Linked DNA regions of Homo sapiens: regions 1 and 2 are each linked to region 3. Evidence: fine-mapped expression QTL. A gene starts in region 3. Each other region holds a variant in brackets. All regions are shown on one strand. Distances are between the middles of the regions.

Region 1 (8,138 bases), 35 kb before region 3:
ACAGCCTCAACAGCCACAGGCCGGCAATCAAAGTCACCACTCAGTCAAGGTCCCCAGGAGCAGGGGAGACTGGACCCCATCTCCTTCCAACTGCTACAGCCCAGGAGGACTTGGAGGTAAGGTGAGGGCATCCAGGCTGGGGGCTCTGAGTCTCAGCAGCCACTCCTGCCTCATGCTGGGTGCCCCCACCAATTCTGTTTGAACATCACCCAGAGTGATTTTGTCTGAAGAAACAGGGCTGCCAACTAAAGGAGTTTAAGACCTGCTGCTCAGTACCGTCTCTCTGGGAAGGTGGAAGAAAGGAGCAAGAATGAACTTGGCAGGAATTGGGCCGCTGAGAGACGTGAATAGCGTCTACCCTGTCTCCCCTCCCTGGTGTCCAAGACCCCAACACGGGACCTGAGAGTGTTCACTGGCACCAACTTCCCAGGCAGAGGCCTAAGTGACCTTTCTAGCCCTCCAGGAAGGCTCTGGAGAGGAAAGAGGACCAGCATGGATACCTACCCCTGCCTAGTGGTCAGCCAGAGGATTCTGGTAATCGCTTTGCAAGGAAAGGGACCTGAAAGGAAAGGAATCGGCTTGAACGGATCCTCAAACTCTCAGACAAGTGTCAGTCCCCACAGGCACAGATCCCTCTAGCTCATGCCACATCCACATGGTAGACCTGTGCTTGGGAATCTTGCTCCGAGAAGTTCCCCAAGAAACTGGGTGAGGCGAACCCTGCTGTGTGGCTTTGGACAAAGCCTTTACCCTCTCTGGCCCTGGAGTTTGCTTCAGAATTGAGCAACCTGCACCTGAATCCAGGAGGCACTGGGGGTGGGCCCTGCCCGGCGGGTGAAACACTGACCGTAAGGCACGAGGCTGCGGAGGGGCTCTGGTTGCTGGGCTTCGCTGGACACGGGCCACTGGCAGTAGCTGCCGTCAGAGTGACAGCTGACGAGCAGGCGGCCGTCCCGCTGCCACCAGATGTTCTCCAGTTGCTATGGAGGAAGAGGAGAGGGACAGAGGGCAGCACGCTGGACCGAGGCGGCGTTCCCATCGCCTGCACCCCATGCCTCTGCACAGTGTGTATGTGCCACTTGGGGCCCTGGGAGAGCAACATGGCGCCTGCCATGTCCTGGGCACTGCCTACCTGGCTGCTGAGGAAGTGGTAGAGCACGCGGCTGCCCTGTAGGTCCCAGATGACAACGAGGCCTCGGCTGTAGCCGATCAGGATCTGGTTGGGGTCTCGAGGGTGCTCCTGCAGTGCCTCCACCATCTCGAACACACGCCGGTGGCGGGCCTCCTCTGGCAACCTGGGCGAGGGGAGTGCCGTGAGCCTCCGATGCCGTCCACCAGGGGGAATGGCCCCCAGCATGGCACAGCCATGGGGCTCCCTATGCAGAGGTGGCTGCTCCATGTGCCAGCATAGAAATATGGCTAGGGGCTGGGCGCAGTGGATGGCCGAGCGTGGTGGCTCATGCCTGTAATCCCAGCACTTTGGGAGCCCAAGGTGGGCAGGCCACTTGAGGTCAGGAGTTTGAGAGCAGCCTGGCCAACATGGCAAAACCCTGTCTCTACTAAAAATATAAAACATTAGCTGGGCGTGGTGGCACATGGCTATAACCCCAGCTACTTGGGAGGCGGAGGCGGGAGAATTGCTTGAACCCAGGAGGCGGAGGTTGCAGTGAGCCGAGATCGTGCCACTGCACTCCAGCCTGGGTGACAGAGTGAGACTCCATTTCCAAAAAAAAAGAAAGAAAGATGGCTAGGACATGTCACCAAGGGGAGAAGGGCAGCATGTAGAACAAGACAGAGACATGGACACAACCTCCAGTGATGTAAACACAGGCGGTACAATTATAAGGCAAGGCAAGGCAGTGACTTCTGGAAAAGTCAATGTGGGGGCAAGAGGGAGCCTTGACTAGGAAGGGTGCATAAGACCTCCGGAGGGCATCAAAGTTCTATTTCTATGCCCGGCAGGAAGGCTGCAAGGATGCTCTACAAGAATCTGTTAAACTGTACATTCATATTCAGTGCATTTTTGCAAAAGGGAGTGTTTAATAATAAAGAAGTTTTTTAGCCCCATAAAACAAAACTCTGTGTGAGTTGGCCTGGCCCTGGAGCCTTGACCCCTGCCCCGTCTCCAGGCCTGGAATGCTGCCGTGAGGGCTGGAGGTGTTGCAGCCAACAAAAAAACCACAAGGCAGCAGGCACAGGACCAACAGCCAACAGCAAGGATGTGGGAAGTGGACCCAGCCTGGACCCAAGCCACACTAAACCCAAGCTCTCCACATTATCTATATCTGGCACATCTACTGCTAGCACTGACCTCACTGACATTAGAATTTGAATCAAGAGTGAGAGTTGAAGGGGACTTTAATATTCAATATTTAATTTTTTTTTTTTGAGATGGGAGTCTCGCTCTGTTGCCCAGGCTGGAGTGCAGTGGTGTGACCTCGGCTCACCACAACCTCCACCTCCGGGGTTCAAGCAATTCTCCCTGCTCAGCCTCCCGAGTATCAGGGATTACAGGCACCCACAACCATGCCAGGCTAATTTTTTATACTTTTAGTAGAGACGGGGTTTCGCCATGTTGCCCAAGCTGGTCTCGAACTCCTGATCTCAGGTGATCCACCCGCCTCCGCCTCCCAAAGTGCTGGGATCACAGGCGTGAGCCACCGCGCCCGGCCTAATTTTTAATCTTTTTAGAGACAGGATCTCATTCTGTCACCCAGGCTGGAGGGTAGTGACCTGATCATGGCTCACTGCAGCCTCCAACTCCTGGGCTCAAGTGATCCTCCCACCTCCCAAGTAGCTGAGACTGCAGACGTGTGCCGCCTTGCCCAACTAATTTTTATTTTTTGTGAGGAGAGACAGGGTCTTGCTATGTTGCCCAGGCTAGTCTCAAATTCCTGGCCTCAAGCAATCCTCCTACCTCAGCCTCCCAAAGTGTGAGCAACTGTGTCCATCTAGATATTCTTAATAAATGCAAATAATGTCCTTACACAGATGAAAATTGTTAGACAATTAGAGGGCTTCCAACTTTTTGCCATTAAAAACAGCCCTACAATGATCATTCTTATCCTATATCTTTAGGACAGAGACTTCTCAGAGACAG[T/AGT]TATGAGACTAAAGGGTTGCACGTTTTAAAAACTTAGATAAGTGTCATCAAGAGGACGAGAATTTAAACTGCCAAAAGGGGCTGGGCCTGGTGGCTCACACCTGTAATCCCAGCACTTTGGGAGACCGAGGTGGGTGGATCACCTGAGGTCAGGAGTTCAAGACCAGCCTGGCCAACATGGTGAAACCCCGTCTCTACTAAAAATACAAAAATAAGCCGGGTGTGATGGCGTGCACCTGTAATCCCAGCTACTCGGAAGGCTGAGGCAGGAGAATCACTTGAACCCAGGAAGCAGAGGTTGCAGTGAGCTGAGATCTTGCCACTGCACTTCGGCCTGGGACAGAGTAAGACTCTCTCAAAAAAAATGTTTTTTCTTTGTTTTTTTTTTTTTTTTTTTTTTTTTTTTTTAATAAATAAACAAACTGGGCCAGGCGCTGTGGCTCATGCCTGTAATCCCAGCACTCTGGGAGGCTGAGGCGGGTCAATCACCTGAGGTCGGGAGTTCGAGACTAGTTTGACCACCATGGAGAAACCCTGTCTCTACTAAAAATACAAAATTAGCTGGGTGTGGTAGCGCATGCCTGTAATCCCAGCTACTCGGGAGGCTGAGGCAGGAGAATAGCTTGAACCCAGGAAGCAGAGGTTGCAGTGAGCCAAGATCGTGCCATTGCACTCTAGCCTGGGGAACAAGAGTGAAACTCCATCTCAAAAATGAAATAAAATATAATATAATATAATATAAATAAACTGGCAGGAGGGGCTCTCAGGGCACTTGGGCCCCCCCGCCGACTAGATTCCCGCCAGCTAACTACAGGGTGAGGCTGGGCACTGGTGTGGCCACCTGCTGGGGCGCAGGTCCCATGCCGTCCTGCCCACAGGCTGTGTCCCACTGTGGTACCTGTCATCCTGCAAAGTGTTCTGCTCTGACCTTGGACACACTGCCCCAGCCCTACCCTGCTGAACGGGAAAGGCAGAGGTCTGCACTCAGAGGGACACAGCTCCAAGTGGGAATCCTCCCAGCCCAGTCATGCCCTGCCCTGGGCAGACGGGCCCTGCTTCATCACCACCCAGGGCTGGAGAGCTGGGCTGGCCAGCTGCAGGAGTGTGTCCCAGGCCCAGTCCAAAGCCTTGCAGGGCCAGGGGCCCAGCACCCTGGCCTCCTCCTGCCCCTTGGAACCACAGATCATTCCACCATGACCGACCCGGCCCCAACATGATCTTGTCAGATGCTATCTCCTCTCTTTTTTTGGGCCCCGTCCCCTTCTCCCACCCGGACCTGATCCAACTCCCTCTCTAATGTAGTATCATCAACAAGGAGCAAAGCTTCTGAAACGATCTCAACAGACCCACATGCCTGTGGCGGTCAAGGCTTTTTAGCCACGGAGCTTGCGAGCAAATGGAACCTCAGCAAAGTACCCACCGCAAAGGGTGGCACCAGGAGCTGCCCCAGTGACACAGGGAGGTCTGGGCCCGACTTCCCCGCTGCGGAGCCCCTGGGGTTCTGAAACCCATGGCAAGTGCAAAGGACACTGGACTGACAGTCGGTGACATTACACAGTCATTTGGGGCCTTTAGACGAGGGACCCTCAAAGCCCCCTTTTTAGTGCTATGATGCTAACCTATGACAGGCCAATAGGTTCTCAGTAGGTGACAGGTAGGAAGCCAAGAGCCTCCCCTGCTATAGCCCCATGGAATTCCCAGCAGAGAAATGACAGCTCCTGACAGAGTCCTGGGACCAAGGGGAGAAGCCATGCCTAACTTGAGGGGATGGAGTTAACAGCAGCTGGGCTCTGGGCTCACCGCTGCAGCACCGCGTCCGAGCTGATGGTCCGGTCCTCCAGCGCACGAAAAGCTGGCAGCTGCACCACAAACACGTTGCCACTCTCGGTGCCCAGGTAGAGCAGCTCGCAGGAGGAATGTGGCAGGACCACGGTGATCTGTGTGGCACTGGGGGCAGCCCTGTGACAAGAACAGCTGCCCGTGAGCCGACCACTGCCCAGCAGGGGAGATGCCATGGACGGGGTCCCCTGACTCCTCGGAAAACAAGCCCATAAGGCCCTTTAATGAGGTCATAACATTTCAAGCCAGGACAAACATTGGTCACTTTCTGCCAAGACAGGAGACAGATGGCAGAGAGCCTGGGCTAGGAGGCAGGAAAGACGCCAGGGACCCTCCAGCATAACACGGGGTGCGGATGGAGGAGGCGGGGTGCAGATGGAGGAGGCGGGGTGCGGATGGAGGAGGCGGGGTGCGGATGGAGGAGGCGGGGTGCGGATGGAGGAGGTGGGGTGCGGATGGAGGAGGCGTGGTGTGGATGGAGGAGGTGGGGTGCGGATGGAGGAGGCGGGGTGCGGATGGAGGAGGTGGGGTGCGGATGGAGGAGGCGTGGTGTGGATGGAGGAGGCAGGCTGCAGCCCCGCCCACTCCACTCGGAGCACCTGAGTGTGGCGATGCATCGGGCCAAACGCATGCCAGTCACTGCCAGGGGCGCAACAGGCCTCACAAAGGGTGAGTCCACTCCAGAGCTAAGGGCAAGGGTCAGGCTGGGCTGGGAGTGGAAGGGGCTGGGGATTGAGCCCTTACCCTGGGGGTCCACGCAGTGTGAAGCTCTCATCCTCCTGCAGCTCCGATGCCCCGCCCTTGACCTTCAGGCTCCAAAGGTGCAGGCTGTTGTCATCCAGCAGGGTGACCAGCTGGCACTGGCGAGGGCACACGACGGGATCATGTGGTCTTGCTACCCAGGCAAGGCCTTTACACACTGGGGCCACGCAGCCCCAGTTGTTTAAAAGACCCCCTGGCCACTCCCAGGGTGGCCCATGAGCCCCAGCTGTGGAAAGGGAGGGGGTCCCAGGTCTTTCCATCAGCAGCAAACCCAGGGCCACCGAATGCCAGCCTCTCCACACCAGCCCTGCTGGAAGCAGTGAAGGCAAGGAGGGCATGGAAGTGGCTTCCTGTCCCACCCCAGGTCCCTCACCTGGCCGGGCAGGAGGTGGATCTGCGTCACAGCGTTGTTCTCCTGGTGCAGCCCCATGAACTCCACGCCTGGGGCTCCGTAGCTAGGAGTAGGCTCAGGAAAGCTCTGGAAGGTCGGACACCATCCCCTGCCTGCCTTGAGTGCCAGGCCCTCGGGGCCCATGTGCAATGATGCAAACACAGAGAGGGGCTGCCCTCCCCCGAGGCAGCAGGACCCATGCATGGAGCCTAGGGTGGGGAGGAGACACAGCAGCCCTGGCCCTGGGGCACCAGGCCAGTGACCTGATCCCTGGGAGATTTTTCCCAGTCAGGCCGGTGGGAGCAACTCCATAGAAAGGCGAAGCCCTACCCTGGCAACTGTCAGGCTGCCACCCTGATCCTGAGCTGCAAAAGACATGTTGGCTGTCGCTTGGTAGCACCTGTGAAAAAACACACGGCACCCCAGGGGGCCTATCACCAACAGCCTTGGCCCATTAGTCTTGGCACCAGGGATTGGTAACTAGAGTCTGGCTGTGGCCTGGCAATGATTAACCAGCCGAGGGAAGGCTGAGCCCGCAGCAAGGCCCTGGCCCCCTGTGTACACCAGCCCAGCCTGGAACTCGAGTGCTCCATACCCCTCCCCCACACCGGGCAGAGGGGAAGAGGGAGGTCAGGCTCCGCTGGAGGTGGCAGCCAAGCTATTGGAGGTGGTCCCTCATCTCTCAACTCCCTTGGGCCCTGCCCTGAGGGGAGCACAGATCAGACTGGCGGGGTGCCCAACCTGATCCGGTTTTTCATCTCTGAAAACACTGGGAGCCCCCAGTCGGCCAGAACCAGTGCTCTGGATAAAAGATGACCCAACTGGACAACATCCAGCCTCAGGCCGGGGAAGGACTGTCCCTGCCAGGCAGAGCCCTCTCCACTCTCTGCCGCCTGTGGGAGTGGGGGTGGAATTTGGAAGACAGCTGCCGAGCCCTGCTCTCCTGGCCCAAGGCCACCCCATCTCTGCTTGTGGATAGGGCCCTGGGGCCAGTCCACCTCTGATTCTTATCGAGATAGGTTAAAAAACAAAACTGCAGGCTGGGAGTGCAGTGACTCATGCCTGTAACCCTAGCATTTTGAGAGGCCAAGGCGAGAGAGTTGCTTGAGCCCAGGAGTTCAAGACCAGGCTGGGCAAGATCACAAGACCCTGTCTCCACAAAAAAAAAAAAAAAAAAAAAAAAAGTTTTTGAGACAGAGTCTCACTCTGTTGCCCAGGCTGGAGTGCAGTGGCACAATCTTGGCTCACTGCAACCTCTGCCTCCCAGGTTCAAACGATTCTCCCATCTCAGCCTCCCAAGTAGCTGGGATTACAGGCATGTGCCACCACGCCCTGATAACTTTTAAAATATTTTTAGTAGAGACAGGGTTTTACCACATTGACCAGGCTGGCCTTGAACTCCTGACCTCAAGTGATCTGCCCGCCTCAGCCTCCCAAAGTGCCGAAAAAAATTTTTTTAAATTAAAAACATCCCTAGCGACAAGAGGGGTCCCTGTAACTTGCTTTTCTGGTGGTGAGGTGGGGAGCTGAGGGAGGCAGGGGCACAGAAGGGCCTAGGCCTTGCTACTGGCGCACCAGCCAGCCACTCACTGAATGATCACTGGCTGAGACATGGGCGTCAGGTCCTTCCCTCTGGATCCACCAATACAACCCCTGCAAAACAGGTCTCTGAGCCCCCCAGCAGCCTCACCCCCTGCCCGGGACTGGGGGATTCCTGAAACCTCCAGGAATAGGTGAGAGGGGAAACTGAGTAAAGGGAGCAGACCACATGAAGGGTCCTGAAAGGACACAGGAGACAAAATAAGCCTGTATCTCCTCAGTCCATTTCAAACCTCACTGTCCTCCTGCAAAGGACAGGGTCGCATCCCACCAGGGATGCACTCATGCCCAGGTGCCTGCTCCACCATCAACCATACCTGCCCCATTTTGGAATAAAATCATGTCCAAAACTGGAAATCAGGAAAGTCCCTCATTTTATCCCAACAGCCCACGGGCAAGGAAGGAAAAGATGTCCCTCCCCAAATCTCACCCACCCCAAGGCCCTGC
Region 2 (8,171 bases), 50 kb before region 3:
AGGAGAATCGCTTGAACCCGGGAGACGTAGGTGGCAGGGAGCCAAAATCACTGCCACTGCACTCCAGCCTGGGCGACAGAGCGAGACTGTCTAAAAAAAAAAACCCAGTAGCTTAAGGACACATAACCACTAAATATGGACTTGAGGACCAAGCCCAGGCCCTCTGGCCTTTAATACCCACTTTTCTGCTGAACCCACACTGTGGAGCTCCGCAGCGCTTCTGCTGGAATCAGCTTTGGAACCAGACAGCCTTGGTCCCCCATCCCAGCTGCAGTGCTCCACCCTCCTGGCTCTATGACCTTGAACAACCTTCAGGGAACAGCTTGGCTAATCTTGACATGCAGGGAGACAGGCCACACCCCCGAGCCTGGCTCTCCCCTCTGCTTCCCACTTTCCCACTGACTTCCTTTGCCTGCTTCGCTCACCAGTGTATAGTGAGCTCCTCCCTGGGGCTGTGTGCCGCGCCCTCTCTGGACTTCCTTCCACACTCCCTCCCTCTGGAGCCATCTCCTTCTCTCCTGGCCTCACCCACCATCCACAGTAACTTTCACCTCCTAGGGTTGGGTGTTTACTAGGAATCAGGTGCTGTGTGATTTTACAGGCTCTCATTTAATCCTTTACAACCCTCTGAGGTAAGTCCTATTATTATCCTTCACTTTACAGATAAGTAAACCAAGGTATGGGAGTGAGGTCATGTACCCAAGGTCACACAGCCAGTCACGTGAAAGCCAGTGTACAGGGTTGGATCTGCCTGGCCTCAAATGCTAAATGAACACCAGGTCTCCACCACTTTGAATGCCCAAGACCCTCACATCTCAATCTGCAGACTGGCAGGGTGTGGCAGCTCATGCCTATGATCCCAGCACTTTGGGAGGCTGAGGCAGGAGTATCCTTTGAGACCAGGAGTTTGAGACCAGCCTGGGGCAATATAGGGAGTCCCTGTCTCTACAAAAAATTTAAAAATAAAAAAGTAGGACAGGCGCGGTGGCTCACGCCTGTAATCCCAGCACTTTGGGAGGCCGAGGCAGGCGGATCACAAGGTCAGGAGTTTGAGTCCAGCTTGGCCAACATGGTGAAACCCTGTCTCTACTAAAAATACAAAAATGAGCTGGGCGTGGTGGCTAACGCCTGTAATCCTAGCTACTCGGGAGGCTGAGGCAGGAGAATTGCTTGAACCTAGGAGGCGGTGATTGCAGTGTGCCGAGATCATGCCACTGCACTCTGGCCTGGGCGACAGAATGAGGCTGTCTTGAAAAAAAATAATAATTAGCTGAGCATGGTGGCGCCCACCTGTGGTCCCAGCTACAAGTTTGCTCCAACCCAAGAGTTCAGGCTACAGTGAGCTATGATCACACCACTGCACTCCAGCCTGGGCAACAGAGCAAGACTCTGTCTCTAAAATAAATCAATTTCCGTGGCCAGGCTCAGTGGCTTATGACTGTAATCCTAGCACTTTGGATGACTGAGGCTGGAGGATTGCTTGAGCCTCGGAGGTCAAGGTTGCAGTGAGCCATGATCTCATGCCACTGTACTCCAGTCTAGGTGACAGAGTGACACCCTGTCTCTAAAAAACAAATAAAATAAATCTCCTGACCACAAATCCAGTTGCCTGCTGTATACCTCCCTGGCCCTTGGAGGCAACAGGTAGCCCTCACGCTCACTCATCTCCTCCCATCTGGCAGCCATCCTTGTCAACCCAACCCCTCAATGCCTCTATTTCCCTACCACCGTCGCCTTGCCCTGGATGGCTGTGGGGATCCCAGCTTCCTCCAGTTCATTTTTTTTTTTTTTTTGAGACGGAGTCTTGCTCTGTCCCCAGGCTGGAATGGAGTGGCATGATCTCGGCTCACTGCAGCCTCCGCCTCCCGGATTCAAGAGATTCTCCTGCCTCAGCCTCCCGAGTGGCTGGAATTACAGGCACACGCCACCACACCTAGCTAATTTTTGTATTTTTAGTAGAGACGGGGTTTCACCATGTTGTCCAGGCTAGTCTTGATCTCCTGACCTTGTGATCCGCCTGTCTCGGCCTCCCAAAGTGCTGGGATTACAGGCATGAGCCACCGCTCCCGGCCCCTCCAGTTCACTTTCTAGAGAGGAAGATGCCACGTCCTTCCATCTTGCACACCCATCAATACAAATTGTTGTTCATCTCACACTCCCAGTGGGAATATTTTTCTTTTTTTTTTTTTTTTTTTGAGACAGAGTCTCACTCTGTCGCCCAGGCTGGAGTGGGGTGGCATGATCTCGGCTCACTGCAAGCTCTGCCTCCTGGGTTCACCCCACTGTCCTGCCTCAGCCTCCTGAGTAGCTGGGACTACAGGCGCCCGCCACTATGCCTGGCTAATTTTTTGTATTTTTAGTAGAGATGGGGTTTCACCATGTTAGCCAGGATGGTCTCGATCTCCTGACTTCGTGATCCGCCCGCCTTGGCCTCCCAAAGTGCTGCGATTACAGGCGTGAGCCACCGTGCCCGGCCGAGAATGTTTCCTTAAACTGAAATATGCACACCGACATTAGCTAATACTTCAAAGCACAGCATACTTACAGCAAAGCTCAAAGTTCAGCACTAATCAGCAAGGAAATAAGTTCATGTTCGGAGTCTTCCTGATATTTTCAGGGCTGTGTGTTTTCGACTTCTTGTTCAATTTCATCAGCAAGACCTGTGCTGTGGCCACCAGGCTCCTCTGTGCCACAGAAGTGCAGGTTCTGCCGTTTTTTTCTGATTCACTGGTACTTGCATCATCACCATTATCTTTTTTTTTTTTGAGATGGAGTCCCGTTCTGTTGCCCGGTCTGGAGTGCAGTGGTGCGATCTTGGCTCACTGCAACCTCTGCCTCCCAGGTTTGTGATTCTCCCACCTCAGCCTCCTGAGTAGCTGGGGTTACAGATGCCCGCCACCACGCCCGGCTAATTTTTGTATTTTTAGAAGAAACAGGGTTTGACCATGTTGGCCAGGCTGGTCTCGAACTCCTGACCTCCAGTGATCTGTCTGCCTTGGCCTCCCAAAGTGCTGGGACTACAGGCGCGCGCCACCACGCCCAGCTAATTTTTGCATTTTTAGTAGAGACAGGGTTTCACCATGTTGACCAGGCTCGTTTTGAACTCCTGACTTCAAGTAATCTGCCCCACCTCAGCCTCCCAAAGTGTTGGGATTACAGGCGTGAGCCACTGCGCCCAGCCACCTTTATGGCATATGTTCTTTATGGCAGTATGGGAAGGGACTGATACAGGTGTCTCACCAGGTATCCCCCACCCCTGTGGCTGGTCTCTGCCAGGCATCATCCCTTCCCTGCTTCTTCTAGCATGGTGTTCCTCTCCCTTTGGGGAACTGCTCCCCTACATTCCTCATAGTTCTCGAGGTGCTCATCTCAGAAGTCTTTCTGCACCCTCCCCTGGGGAAACAAGGGACGGTCAAGTGGCCATCTCGAGGTGGACATGGCCAGATGGAACACCTGTACCCAGCTCCTCTGGATGGGCCTTTCCTCGCTCACGCAGAGCAGGCGCCTGTCACACCTGGCCCTCACTGGGCCTCCCTAGTCTGGCCTCACTTTCGGCCCTGCCTGCCAGCCACCTTCCGCTCTCCACTGCCTCCCACGGCAAGCGAGTTCCTGGAGTGGCGGTGAGCCCTCTTGTCCTCTGTCTGGAACAATCTGCTTGCTTACCACACTCTCTGGCAATTCCTGGTTCTCTCTCAGGTCACCCCCCAGGTGCATTTCTCACCAGTGTCAACTGTGGCAGGAACCACAGTTGTCTCAGACACCGGAGAACCCCACGCACTGGCCATACAGTAGGTGCTCAACGAAGACGAGTCAATAAAGATCCAGCCCATGTCCAATCTAAATAACCCAGCCCCTCCCCTGGGGAAGGCCTTTCTCCTTGGGTACCAGCCCCGCTTCAGCAGCACCCCACAGTCCTCCCTGGTGTCTGGAGGAAGCCATCAGGTCTGAGATATTGTGGGTGTCCTTCTTCTGACAGTAGGGAAAGGCCAGCCAGGGGCGGCCAGGACCCAGGGAAAAAGTCAGGCAGACTCAAGATGGTTCGTGCTTGCCATGTGTTCCCACAGAGGGAAGGCACCGCCGGGCTCAGACAAAACGAAGCAGTTTGATTCACACGGCTCCCCAAGTGGATTCTCCTGACACCGGCCCAGGCCAGGGCTGGAGCCTCGGGGGACAGGCAGGGTACCGGCTCCCACTTTCCATTCACATGGAAAATTTCTACACAATTAAAATATTAAAGTAGTGGACCAGTCAAGAGGTAATAGGTGTTTATTAAAAACTTTTTCACCCAGAGGCAGTTAACATTTATAACTTAAAACCCAGCCCACTACAAAAAGGGATGGGAGCAATAAAAACTGTGCAACATTGACCAAAGGACCCAGACAGACGAGGCCCGGGAAGGGCAGCCCAGGGGACTGGGGTCTCTCCTCTCCCGAGGCCCAGAGCAGCTGCATTGTGGAAGCCGGGATGCCCCCAGCCCCTGGCGGGGCCCTGTGCACCGGCCTCTCCGGTTGGGGCAGGGACCCCCGAAAGGCCATCAGTAGTAGTGTGTGCTCATCGCGCAGCCTGGACGCTCAGCCACTCACTCTGCTGAAGGACACAGAGGGACAGCTCAAGATCACCCTGGGCAGGACGGGGTGCCCCAGCCGCCCACGCTGAGCCCAGACATGGTGCTTTCCTGGTCATCAGGGCACGTGTCAGCCCCGTGGGACCCAGGGGAGTGGGGCCGGGGCTCTTCCTCCCAGCCCTTCCCAGCACGGTTGGCAG[C/T]TGCACTCAAGCCCAGAGCCCCCACCTCCGCCATTGCTGAGGCTGCACCCCACGGCGGCTCGATGTGAACGCCAGTTGCCGCTCCTGCACAGGCAAAGACAGGGGAGTCATGGCCTCAGGGACCTCCACTCTCAGCGCTCCCCTGAGCCCTCTGGCAGAGCCTCGGGCCCACCCCAGCTGGCCTGGGCGGTGCCTCACCCGCGGTCTCCCTCCAGTGTGCTCTGGATTTCCTTCAGGACTCCTGCAGGCCGGGTGGGAACAGAGGCCCACTGAGGCCCTTGGGGCGGCTAGCCACAGCCCTTCCACCCCCTTTCTCCGTGGGTGCCCATGGATCTGTACCCCGCCTCAGGGCAGTGGCCTGCCCAGCCTCCCTTGACCCTGACCCCCCTTCCCCACCCCTCCTGCCAGCCCCACCCTCTCCCACCCAACTCACTCTCATCACTGAGCAGAGCGCGCTCCATCACCAGGCCGGGCTGCTTCTCTGGAAGGTAGAGGCCGGGTCAGGGCGCCCCGCCTGGGCCCTCCTCGGCCTGGCTCTCTCTCTCCTTACTGAGGTCAGGATGTGGAAGCCCAGGGCCCAGGGCTGGAAGGAATGCCGTCTCTATTCCCAGCCCAAACACTACCTGCTCACTCGGGACCCTTCCCTCCCGTCCAGCCCCAGGTCTGGGCCGGGTGTGGCCCAGGTGTGCATGAGCCCAGGAGGCCTGTCTTACCCTCGCCATCACTCTGAGTCCCTGAGTTCCTGTGGGGGAAGAGACAGTGAGGACCAGGGCCCCCGGGCTCCCTGCCCGGCTCTGAGAGCCCTGGTCCCATGAAGAACAAGTCAATGGCGCAGCCTGTCCTGAGCCGGAGAGCCTGGGAGGTAAACTGAGTCCTGCCCTGGACTGCCAGCTTGCACAGGGGCAAGGGGCACGCAAAGAGGCAAGGAGAGCCGGAGCCTGGGAGGGTGGGCTGAGCTCGTGGGGAGGTGCCTCCAGCCAGGCAGCAGTGGGAGCCTCGGTATCTCAGAGAGGGCAGGGAGGGGCGGGAGGGGCGGGAGAGGCCTCTGGCCCTTTCACTCACCTGGCTCGGCTCGGGGCCTTCTTGGGGCCCGCACCGTTACCAGGGCGGTGGTTCTTGGTTTCTGCTGAATCCACCAGACACCGGGGCTCCACCAGCCACTTGGTGGAGAGAGAGAAGCGCTCAAACTCCGAGGGTGAGATCAGGTAGAAGCCTGGGGAGTGGGGGCAATGCTAGCGGCCTGGCCTGGCGGCTGCCAAGGCTGCCTCCCCACCTGGGGGAGTAGGGGCTAGTGCTCCCTCGCAGTTCTCCGCTTAAGGCCCATCCAGTCTGGCCGTGGCCACAACACCCCTGGCCACCCTTCCCGTCCGTGCAGTGCCCGGGGCCCCGACACCCACCCAGCCCGGCTCAAACACCTTGGCCATATTTGGTGAAGACGCAGGAGGCGATGCCACTGACGTCCTCCCGGCGGATGCAGCTGTAGCGCACCTGGGGCTTGAGCAGGGGCAGCGAGACCACCTGGATGTCGCCCAGGTTGGTAAGGACTGCCAGGTGGTGCTCCCCGTAGTCCTCGGCTCGACGACTGCCGAAGTGGGCCACGCTGACCCGCCGCACTCTTGAGCCCTCCAGGGCCGTCAGCTTCAACTTCAGCTTGGCACTCACCTTGGGCAGCGTGAACACCTGGGGGCGTGGGGTGGTTGTTCATGCCCATGGCCAAACCAGTTCTCCTGCCCTGTGCTGCTGCTGCTGGGCCCTCCCCTCCCCACATGCCTCCCGGTGTCCTGACAAACCCTTGGCTCTCAGATGCACAGACATGGCCTGGGAGGATGCCGAGGTCACCGACTTCCCTATCTGGATTTTTTTTTTTTTCCTCCGAGATGGAGTCTTGCTCTGTCGCCCAGGCTGGAGTACAGTGGTGTGATCTCGGCTCACTGCAACCTCCGCCTCAGGCAATTCTTCTGCCTCAGCCTCCCGAGTAGAGCTGGGATTACAGGCGTCCACCACCATGCTGGTTTTTTTTTTTTTTTTTGAGACGGAATCTCGCTCTGTCGCCCAGGCTGGAGGGCAGTGGCACAATCTCGGCTCACTGCAAGCTCCGCCTCCTGGGTTCACGCCATTCTCCTGCCTCAGCCTCCTGAGTAGCTGGGACTACAGGTGCCCGCCACCACGCCTAACTAATTTTTTTGCATTTGTTTGTAGAGACGGGGTTTCACCGTGTTAGCCAGGATGGTCTCGATCTCCTGACCTTGTGATCTGCCCGCCTCGGCCTCCCAAAGTGCTGGGATTACAGGCATGAGCCACCGCGCCTGGCCCATGCCGGGCTATTTTTTTTTGTATTTTTAGTAGTCAGGGTTTCACCATATTGGCCAGGCTGATCTCGAACTCCTGCCCTTGTGATCTGGCCTCCCAAAGTGCTGGCATTACAGGCATGAGTCACCGCGCCTGGCCCCCTGTCCTGCCTCAGTGTCCTCACACGAGACTCCCCCCTCACTTATTTCCTGTACTTCTGCAGCCCCTCAGACACCAACTGCAAACAAGACTGAGTCCCAGCCATCATTTTTGCCCAAGGTCCGAGCCTCCTGGATGTCCCGGGGAGTCCCAGGGAGACCCGCCGCTGCCCGTGTGGCACCTTGAACTGCTCCTCTGATACGACGAGCAGCTGGTGGCTTCCCTGCATGTCAGGGCTCTTCGACAGATCATGGGCCACTTCGAGGGGCTCGGGAAGGGGTACGCTGTGTCCGTCGAGCACCAGGATGCCCACCACCGGCGCCCGGTGCATCAGCTGGATCTCCTTGGCTAGGGGGAGGAGGTGGGTGTTGGGGCTGGTGAGGGGGTGGCAGGGCTGGAGCCACTCCCTGGACCCAGCCCAGGCAGCCCGAGCACCCTCTGCTCTCCCTGCCCAGCACTCACCCTGCTCTGCCCGCACAGGCTCATCCATTCTCCGCTCGGCGGGAGGCACACGCAGGGAGAAGGCATAGATGGTGCCCCCATTGGTGCCAGCCCACAGCGAGGGGCAGTGCCGGGAGCCTGCCGAGAAGCCATGTTTGGGTGTCTGACCCTTAGCGTGGGAGTCGGGTGGAGCTGGGCAACCAGGGTTTACTCCCAGGTTTTCCCTCCTGGGAGAGGCTGGAAGGCTCTCTGACAACCACACAGGCCCCAACATAGAAGACCCCAATCCCAGGTCAGCTCAGCCCTTGCTGTGATACAGCAGGGGAGAACCAGCCAGGGAGAGACACGTCATCTGGAGACCAGCAGGCTCTGCTGTCCCCGATCGTCACAGCTGCTCTAGGAGGAAGCTGTCACTTCCTCATTTACAGAGAAGCAAGCTGAGGCCCTGAAAGGCTAAGTGATGGGTCTGAGGCCATGCTTCTAAAGGGTGCTACGGCCTGGATATAAAGCCAAGGGAA
Region 3 (8,171 bases):
AAGGATAGAAGGATGAAGGATGAAGATAAAAGGACTGGCAGGGGCCGGGTGCAGTGGCTCATGCCTGTAATCCCAGCACTTTGAGAGGCTGAGGCAGGCAGATCACTTGAAGTCAGGAGTTCAAGACCAGCCTGGCCAACATGATGAAACCCTGTCTCTACAAAAAATACAAAAATACAAAAATTAGCTGGGCCTGGTGGTGCCTGCCTGCAATCCCAGCTACTCAGGATGCTGAGGCAGGAGAACTGCTTGAACCTGGGAGGCAGAGGTTGCAGTGAGCTGAGATCACGCCACTGTGCTCCATCCTGGGCGACAGAGGAGACTTCGTCTCAAAGAAAAAAAAAGAAAAGGACTGTCAGGCAGGAGGGATAATTTTTTGCTCTCTTTTTTTTTGAGACAGTCTCACTCTATTGCCCAGGCTGGAGTGCAATCGCACGATCTCGGCTCACTGCAACCTCTGCCTCCTGGGTTCAAGCGATTCTCCTGCCTCAGCCTCCTGAGTAGCTGGGATTACAGGCGCTCACCACCACGCCTGGCTAATTTTGCATTTTTAAGTAGAGACCGGTTTCACTGTGTGGGCAAGGCTAGTCTCGAACTCCTGACCTTGTGATCCGCCTGCTTCCGCCTCCCAAAGTGTTGGGATTACAGGCATAAGCCACCTTGCCCGGCCTAATTTTTTGCTCTCTAATTTTACACTTTCTACAATGTTTCCTTTTTCCCACTATGGGCTCCTATTGCCTTTTCTATTTTTTAAATGAACAGCGATCACCTGGGATTATGGGCCATTTTTTGTTTGTTTGTTTGTTTTGAGATGGAGTTTTGCTCTTGTTGCTCAGGCTGGAGTGCAATGGCGTGATCTTGGCTCACCGCAACCTCCACCTCCCAGGTTCAAGCGATTCTCCTGCTTCAGCCTCCTGAGTAGCTGGGATTACAGGCATGTGCCACCATGGCCAGCTGATTTTATATGTTTAATAGAGACAGGGTATCTCCATGTTGGTGAGGCTGCTCTCAAACTCCTGACCTCAGGCGATCGGCCCAACTTGGCCTCCCAAAGTGCTGAGATTACAGGTGTAAGCCACCACGCCTGGCCTTTTTTTCTTTTAATGTTGCGGTATATTAAAAAGTTATTTAAGGCCGGGCGCGGTGGCTTACGCCTGTAATCCCAGCACTTTGGGAGGCTGAGAGGGGCAGATCACGAGGTCAGGAGATCGAGACCATCTTGGCTAACACAGTGAAACCCCATCTCTACTAAAAATACAAAAAATTAGCCGGGCGTGATGGCAGGCGCCTGTGGTCCCAGCTACTCGGGAGGCCGAGGCAGGAGAATGGCGTGAACCCAGGAGGAGGAGCTTGCAGTGAGCCGAGATCTCGCCACTGCACTCCAGCCTGGGTGACAGAGCGAGACTCTGTCTCAAAATAAATAAATAAATAAATAAAAATAATAAAAAGTTATTTATACTAACGGGTCTGGCGTGGCAGTTCATGCCTGTAATCCTAACACTTTGGGAGGCAGGAGGATCACTTGAGCCCAGGAGTTCAAGACTAGCCTGGGCAACATGGCAAAACCCCCTTTCTAAAAAAAAAATAGAAAATTAGCTGTGCATGGTGCTGCGCGCTTGTAGTCCCAGCTACTCAGAAGGCTGAGGTGGGAGGATCACTTGAGCCTGGGAGGTCGAGTCTGCAGTGAGCCTCCATCTCCCAGTGATTGCACCACTGCACTCCAGCCTGGGTGACAGAGCAAGACTCTGCCTCAAAAAAAGAAAAAAAAAAAGTTACTAACAGCTGGGCACAGTGGCTTACACCTGTAATCCCAACGCTTTGGGAGGCTGAAGTGTGAGGGTCACTTGAGTCCAGGAGTTTGAGACCAGCCTGGGCAACATATGGTGAGATCCCATCTCTACAAATTAAAAAACATATTATTAAAGAAAAAAAGAATTTGGTCAACTTAGTTTAAAAAAAAGAAAAAAAAAGAGAAAAAAGTTACTTTTTTCTATTTTATTTCTTATTTATGAATGTAGTGTCATTTTAATATAATTAAAAGCATATTAATCTGACACCAAAGGGGAAACTCCCTTGCCTCAAGGAAGAATGGGGATGCCAAATGACCCTGGACCCCGGAAACCCTGTCCAGGAGCCCCCACAAAGATGGGCCCAGTCTAACTTCAGAGGAAAGGAGTGAACTCTGATTAGAAGCTTAAGAGCTGAGTTTGAGTTCTGTCTGCCACAGCTAGCACTGTGGGAAGATCGCCTAAGAAAACTAAACCCCAAATCCCAGTTCATAAAATAAAGCTGAGACATCTCTCGCACAGTTCTCCTTGTGCCTCTGCTCACACAGACCCAGACAGTTTTCCTCAAATGCCACTTTTTTTTTTTTTTTTTGAGACAGGGTCTCACTCTGTCCCCAGGCTGGAGTGTGGTGGCGCCATCATGACTCACTGCAACCTCCACCTCCTGGGCTCAGGCAATCCTCCCACCTCAGGCTCCTGAGTAGCTGGGACTACAGGTGCACGCCACCATGCCTGGCTAACTTTTTTTATTATTTGCAGAGACGAGGTCTCACTATGTTGCCCAGGCTGGTCTCAAACTCCTGGGCTCAGGCGATCCTCCTGCCTTGGCTTCCCAAAGTGCTGGGATTACAGCTGTGAGCCAATGCACCCAGCCTCAACTGCCACTTCTGACCTTGGCTTCCCCCGGGCTGGGCCACAGCTCTTCTGTGGCAGCTCTGCTCTTCCTACCAGCGTTTCCTTGTCACCTTGACACACCCATTCCCTCCCTGCCCGCTCCCTGCTCAGAATCCTCTCTGTAGCCCCTTCAAGAGAACTCAAGGTTCTCTTGAACTACAAACTCCAGCAGGGGGTCCCTGGAGCCCAGGTTAAGGCTGCCGGCAGTCGCATACGGATCCCCAGGGGAAGGGGCGCCCTCCTCACTCAAAGCTCACCTGTTCAGGTGAGAGCCTCAAAGCGCCACTCTACAGCTCCCCTGGTTAGGTCAGTTCTCCCCACAGCCAAGGCCCAGCGTGTCCACCAATCGTCCAGCCGGAACAAACTAAGACACACTTTCTTTGGCAAGATAGAATTTTCCACTTCTCGCCAAATCCCACAGCGCAAACCCCGCCCGTCAGCATGGAGGGCAGACTGGGTCTCCGCACTGTCATGTGAAGGTGTCCAAAGCCGCCCCAGCTGGAGAAAGGCCGGAGACCGAAGTCCCTCCCGCGGGCTTCCTGCGTCCGGGGATTAGGAGGCACAAAGGGCCGGCAGGGACACAGCCCAGATGGCAGGGGCAGGGGCTAAGCCGCCGGGGCACCGCGCTCCGGCCGCCGCCCGTGGGGAGGGGGTCACCGCAGACGCGCGTCGCCAACCCCGCTGGCCTGGCGCCTGCACGTGGGCCCGGGGACTCCGTCTCTGCCCGCGGTGCCCCCCGCACCCAGCCGGCCGGGGCACCTGTTCTCCTGCTCTCCTAAGCCAACATTATTGTGCAAACCCAAGCCCAAGTTTCAGTCATCGCGCAGATCAGGCAGAGAAGTTTCCCGCAGAACTTTCTACAGGTGTCTCTCTTCCAGGCCAGCACAGCGACGCGGACAGGGGCGAGGCGCGCGGACCTGGGCGCAGCCCTCCCGCCCTGGCCCGACAGCCCAGGGGTCCTGGGCCTCCCTGGCCTCCCCGCCCCAGGTGGAAGCCCCGAGGGGGCGGGCCCGGCTGGGCGAGTCCGGCACGCATCTCACCTGGAACCCCGGGCCAGCCCCCGCCCGAGGCCTCGGCGTCCCTCGGCGCCCGCCGCCGGCCCCGCTCGCTCCGCCGCGCCTGCCCACGGGCTGCTGGGCGGCCGTCTCCTTCCTGCTCACCTCCGGCGCGGCGAGCCTGGGGCGGAGCCGCGCTATTTACATAAAGGGCGAGCCTGCCGGGGCCCAGCGCCCCGCCCCCGGCCCGCCCCCCAGCTCGGCGCCGCAGGGGCGGGGGCACCCTCGGGGGTGGGGGCTGCGCTCCTGCCAATCCGCGGCCCCGGGAAGCGCGGGGCGGGGCCTCGCGAACGGCCTCGGGGTTCCGCAGGCCCGCCCCGGCCTCACCTGCGCGCACCTGGACGCAGAACGGCGCGCCGCGCCCAGTGTCCCGCCGCCTCCCGCAAGCGGAAATAGTTCCCGGAACGCCTGCGGTCCCGGGCCGCCTCCCAGACTCCAGGGGAGCCGTCCCTCCAACTCCCGGGAGCTGCCGAGGGAGGGGCGGATCCGGGCCAGCTCCTCTGCCAGAGCCCAGCCCAGAGAGGGTGACCGGGGGACGCAGGGCCGGGTTTCCAGCCCCACGAGAGGGATGGTGTAGGGACCGGGGCGTCGCGGCGAGACGCCTTTCCTCGGGGGGGGGTGCGGGGGGGCGCCCACCTCCTCCGTGTCGGCCGGAGGGTCTGCAACAGCGGGTGGAATTTTTAGCACAAGCGAGGGAGGAGGTTGGAGCGACGAGAGGCGGGAGCGGAAAGGGCGCGGAGGCCGGGGCTGCAGCGCGCTCCACCGCCCAGCTGCAGGTGGCGCCTCTCGCCACCCGCACCCCGCTGCGCCCAGGGAAGGGCCGATGGCGCGCCGTCCTCCCTCCTCCCTTCGGGAAGCCTGCGACGTCCCATCCCCTCCGACGCAGGCCCGGGAAAGGCTCAAAAGGTTCGAGGTCGCGTTCCTGCTATCCCGCGGGCTTCTCTCACTCTTAGATCCCGCACCAGAGGAAGCGGATCTCCTTGAGTGGGCAAAGCAGGGGTGAGGGGCTGGGGGCAGTTCCACTGACAACGGGACGGGGGCGAGAGGGGTTTACCCAGTACATACAGAAACAGCAGAAAAGAAATCTATTTTTAATGGCTTTGGCTTTATAGCACGAAGCAGGCACCCTCTCGTTAAAGGCACACAGTCCTCTCTTCTGCCCCACCTCCTGGGTCCTTAAAATCGAGTCCTGAGTTCCAGAGGGGTCACTGCAAGGCAGCAGGGAAGGGAGAGGGTCACAGTTTCACTCTGTGAGTATCAGACACCCAGGGCCAAGGCCCAGACTGGCCTCTGAAGCTACAGGTTAGAGTCTGGGTACAGGAGGCAGCCGAGATGGTCCCTGAGAACAGACAGTCCCGGTCCCCCGGAGCAAGCTCCATCCTCTGCAGAGCTGTGAGGTCAGTGCCCCACATCCTGGGGCAACGTGAAGTCCCTGAAGCTGTAGAAGGAGATGTCACCATGATCCACCAGGGCAAAGATCAGAGGGACATCCCCACTCTGGTAAGACAACCGCTTGAGGCTGCAGAGGTCTGGGACAGGCTCATCAAATCTGCAGGGACAAAGGGTTAGAGTGAGACCCAGCCATAGCCCACTCCTAAGCTCTAGGGCTCCCAGAGAAGAGATTCTACGGAAGGAGTTGGGGTGCAAGAATTCTGACCCATGAGTTCTGTCTCCAAAACACAGGGCTCTGATGAAGAGCGCCCCAGAGCACTGGTTGGGGAGGTGCTAGGAAGAGCAAGGTGCTCACCACTCTTAGCCTGTAAATCCCCACAATCCACATCCCTTCTGCTGGGTGAGTCCTAGACTAAAATGGCATTGGAGAAAGACTACCCTAAAATGCCAGCAACGAGGAGCTCAGAGTAGGGCAGCACAAACTGGCTGTGTGGCCTTGTGTAGGTCACTTAGCCTCTCTGGACCTCCTGTTCCTCTCAGAGATTGGCACGCTGGCCAGGGGAGTACAGAGGAGTCCCACTTGGTTCACAGGAGAACTGGCAGCAGCTGGGGGAGGGGCAGTGCTGGCTCACTGCGTACCCACTAATGCACATCCGGGCATAGGGTTTGCCAGGGTTATTCTTTCGGAATGTGGCCACAGCGTCGGCCTGGTAAACATCAAAGATGATTTCCAAGCCCCCAGACTTCTCCAACAGCCTGACAATACAATGAGAAACGTTATGACATGAACTCTTCTCCCCAACCTTTCTTTTCCATCCCACCCTTTCCCTCCACCAGTTCCAGGAAGCAGCCTCACAGAGGTGCCACTTGAGGGTTGGGGGCTCTGAACCCTTGGGCTAACCCACTGGTTATTCTCCCTCTTCCCTAGACACACACGAACACTAGTTATTGCTCAGAGCTAGGCGTAGGGGTAGGAGTCCCTGGAACAGTCCTCTAGTTTACACCCTACTTCAGGAGCCAGTTCCTAACCACCAACTCCTGGCGGTCAAGGTACTGCAGAGACGGCACTGCTTGGAAACTTACCGGGCACCTCCATCAGGAAGGTGTGTTGTCTGCAGCACAGAGATATGCTGAAGGACCACGGCTACAAGGACACAGAAAACAAGGTACTGGGGAGGGGAGTCACATTTCTCAGTCTGCCATCTAGTTTAGGACGGCCAGATTTAGCAACTTTTTTTTTTAAACGGAGTCTCACTCTGTCACCCAGGCTGGAGTATAGTGGCGTGATCTTGGCTCACTGTGACCTCTGCCTCCCAGGTTCAAGCAATTCTCCTGTCTCAGCCTCCTGAGTAGCTGGGATTATAAGTGTGCACCACCACACCCGGCTAATTTTTGTATTTTTAGTAGAGATGGTTTCACCATGTTGCCCAGGTTGGTCTCGAACTCCTGACCTCAGGTGATCTGCCCGCCTCGGCCTCCCAAAGTGCTGGGATTACGGGTATGAGCCACCGTGTCCAGCCTAGCAACATTTTTTTTTTTTTTTTAGTATAAGCATATCCCATGCAATTTTTGGAACATATACTGAAAAATTATACTGAAAGTCAAATCAAACTGATCTGGCAACCCTATCTAGTTACCTACAATCTACCGTGTTCCCATAAAGGCTTTAAGTAATTTGGAATCCGTTAACACATTTAGCTTATTCTTTCCCCATTGGTTCCCTGGGCTTAGAGCAGACAGCAAGCCTTTCTTTCACTTGGCCAAGAAGGCACCTCCTTTTCCCATCTAACAGGTTGGGATCACAGCTAGTTGGTGGCAAAGCCATCCACATGCATGTTGTTTATCTTTTTAAGGATATGGTCATAGTTTCCACCCCTCCTTACCTCTCCTGACTCACCATCTCTAAGCCTTCCCACACAGGCCCTGCTGCAGCCGCCGGAGAACTGACCGTGCTTGTGGGTCCACTCCCTCCTCCCACATCTTCCTTAAGCCTCAATCCATCCCAGTTCATCCATGCCCTTTCCAAAGTCCTGTGATTCCTCAGCTGCCAGTGGCCCTCGAAGATGTGGCAGGCTGAGGGGGTACCTGGGGAGCTGGCCTGGCCAGGACTCAGCAGCGGGGTGACGGGCTGGCCCCACAGGTGAGGGGCCCGGCGCTGGCTCCTCTGCACCTGCCGCCGCTGCAGCAGCTCCTTGTACTCCCGCCAGCTGGAGCACCGCTGCACCTCGGGATCGGCGTTGACATCTTCCTGGAACTGCGCGGCCTCCGCGTGGTGCTCCCGTTCCCGCCTGGAGAGCTTCTCCTTGCGCTGGTTCAGCTTCTGGCACCAGGACTCAGCGTCTGTCTCCCGCCCAGCCACGTTGGCCGGGAGCAGCTCTGGGGCTGGGGCGCGCAGAAGGGTGTGGCGGCTGTCTGAAGCCATGTTGGGGAAGGAGATCTGCTCGAAGTTCCAGCGCCGCTTACCGGCTCCCGTGACTCCGTTCTCGGCTCTGCCACTCTCCCAGCTGCACCCCACCCCCTCCCTGGCCGGGCCAGGGCTGGGGCCCAGGGACCCCAGAAGCTGAAAGGGGCCCCCTGGGCCCTTCATGGGGCTTGACTCCTGGGGTTTCTCCTCTGGGCATTGGCTGGGCTGGCTGCAGGGAGGTGGGCTGGAGGCTGCCAGACTCTTGGGTTGCAGGGAGTTGTCCAGGGCCTTGGCCTTCTTATTAATGGACCTGAGGGACGTGGGGGAAAAGCAGCACATCTGCCCCTGGTTGCTAAGGTGCACACGTCCCATGGGAGCTGAAGGCAGGTCCCCTAGTGTCTCCCTGAGCCTGCATGGGAGCTGCTGGTTCTTAGAAAGCCTGTGCATTTTCCAAGGTCCCAGACACCAGCACTCCCTGGGGGGCCACCGTGATGTGGGAGTTACCGAGGGCTGGAGCTGCTCCTCTTTCTCTTGCCATCTCCATCCTCCAAGTGCTGCACGCTGGCATCCAGGTTAAGCTGCCTCTCATACGGGGACAGGACAGAGCTGTGGGGTGAGAACAGCGGGTGGGCCACTGAC

Which allele goes with the higher level. Positions count from the first base shown, and alleles are read on the strand shown. Sizes are in standard deviations (SD) of each study's normalised expression. Not every link is listed here.
In carriers of allele C in region 2, the expression in monocytes of the gene that starts at base 3,850 in region 3 tends to be higher than with T alone (large effect, 0.90 SD a copy in Schmiedel 2018).

The links.
Region 1: its variant is fine-mapped to the expression of LLGL2 in whole blood (TOPMed, PIP above 0.99).
Region 2: its variant is fine-mapped to the expression of LLGL2 in monocytes (Schmiedel 2018, PIP 0.95).

The regions. Positions count from the first base shown.
Region 1 is chr17:75,556,173-75,564,310 of GRCh38, reverse strand. It overlaps LLGL2 (LLGL scribble cell polarity complex component 2), which reads right to left. Exons shown (of 26, transcript NM_001031803.2): 4 at 6,075-6,156; 5 at 5,684-5,799; 6 at 4,901-5,059; 7 at 1,133-1,295; 8 at 848-980; 9 at 505-559. Among named protein-coding and RNA genes, the nearest start is that of MYO15B, 28 kb to the left of the region's middle. RefSeq lists a silencer at 1,829-2,123 and enhancers at 5,520-6,455, 6,456-7,392. The variant T/AGT (reference allele first, on the strand shown) is at 3,101.
Region 2 is chr17:75,571,287-75,579,457 of GRCh38, reverse strand. LLGL2 (LLGL scribble cell polarity complex component 2) reads right to left here. Exons shown (of 26, transcript NM_001031803.2): 18 at 7,675-7,791; 19 at 7,394-7,560; 20 at 6,180-6,444; 21 at 5,827-5,977; 22 at 5,478-5,506; 23 at 5,198-5,245; 24 at 4,963-5,005; 25 at 4,790-4,848; 26 at 4,249-4,587. The coding sequence ends at 4,580. Among named protein-coding and RNA genes, the nearest start is that of MYO15B, 12 kb to the left of the region's middle. RefSeq lists an enhancer at 7,919-8,088. The variant C/T (reference allele first, on the strand shown) is at 4,765.
Region 3 is chr17:75,521,376-75,529,546 of GRCh38, reverse strand. LLGL2 (LLGL scribble cell polarity complex component 2) reads right to left here and starts at 3,850. Exons shown (of 26, transcript NM_001031803.2): 1 at 3,722-3,850. TSEN54 (tRNA splicing endonuclease subunit 54) reads right to left here. Exons shown (of 11, transcript NM_207346.3): 7 at 8,037-8,138; 8 at 7,214-7,842; 9 at 6,212-6,272; 10 at 5,768-5,884; 11 at 4,812-5,285. The coding sequence ends at 5,135. RefSeq lists silencers at 4,144-4,328, 3,645-4,364, 4,385-4,484.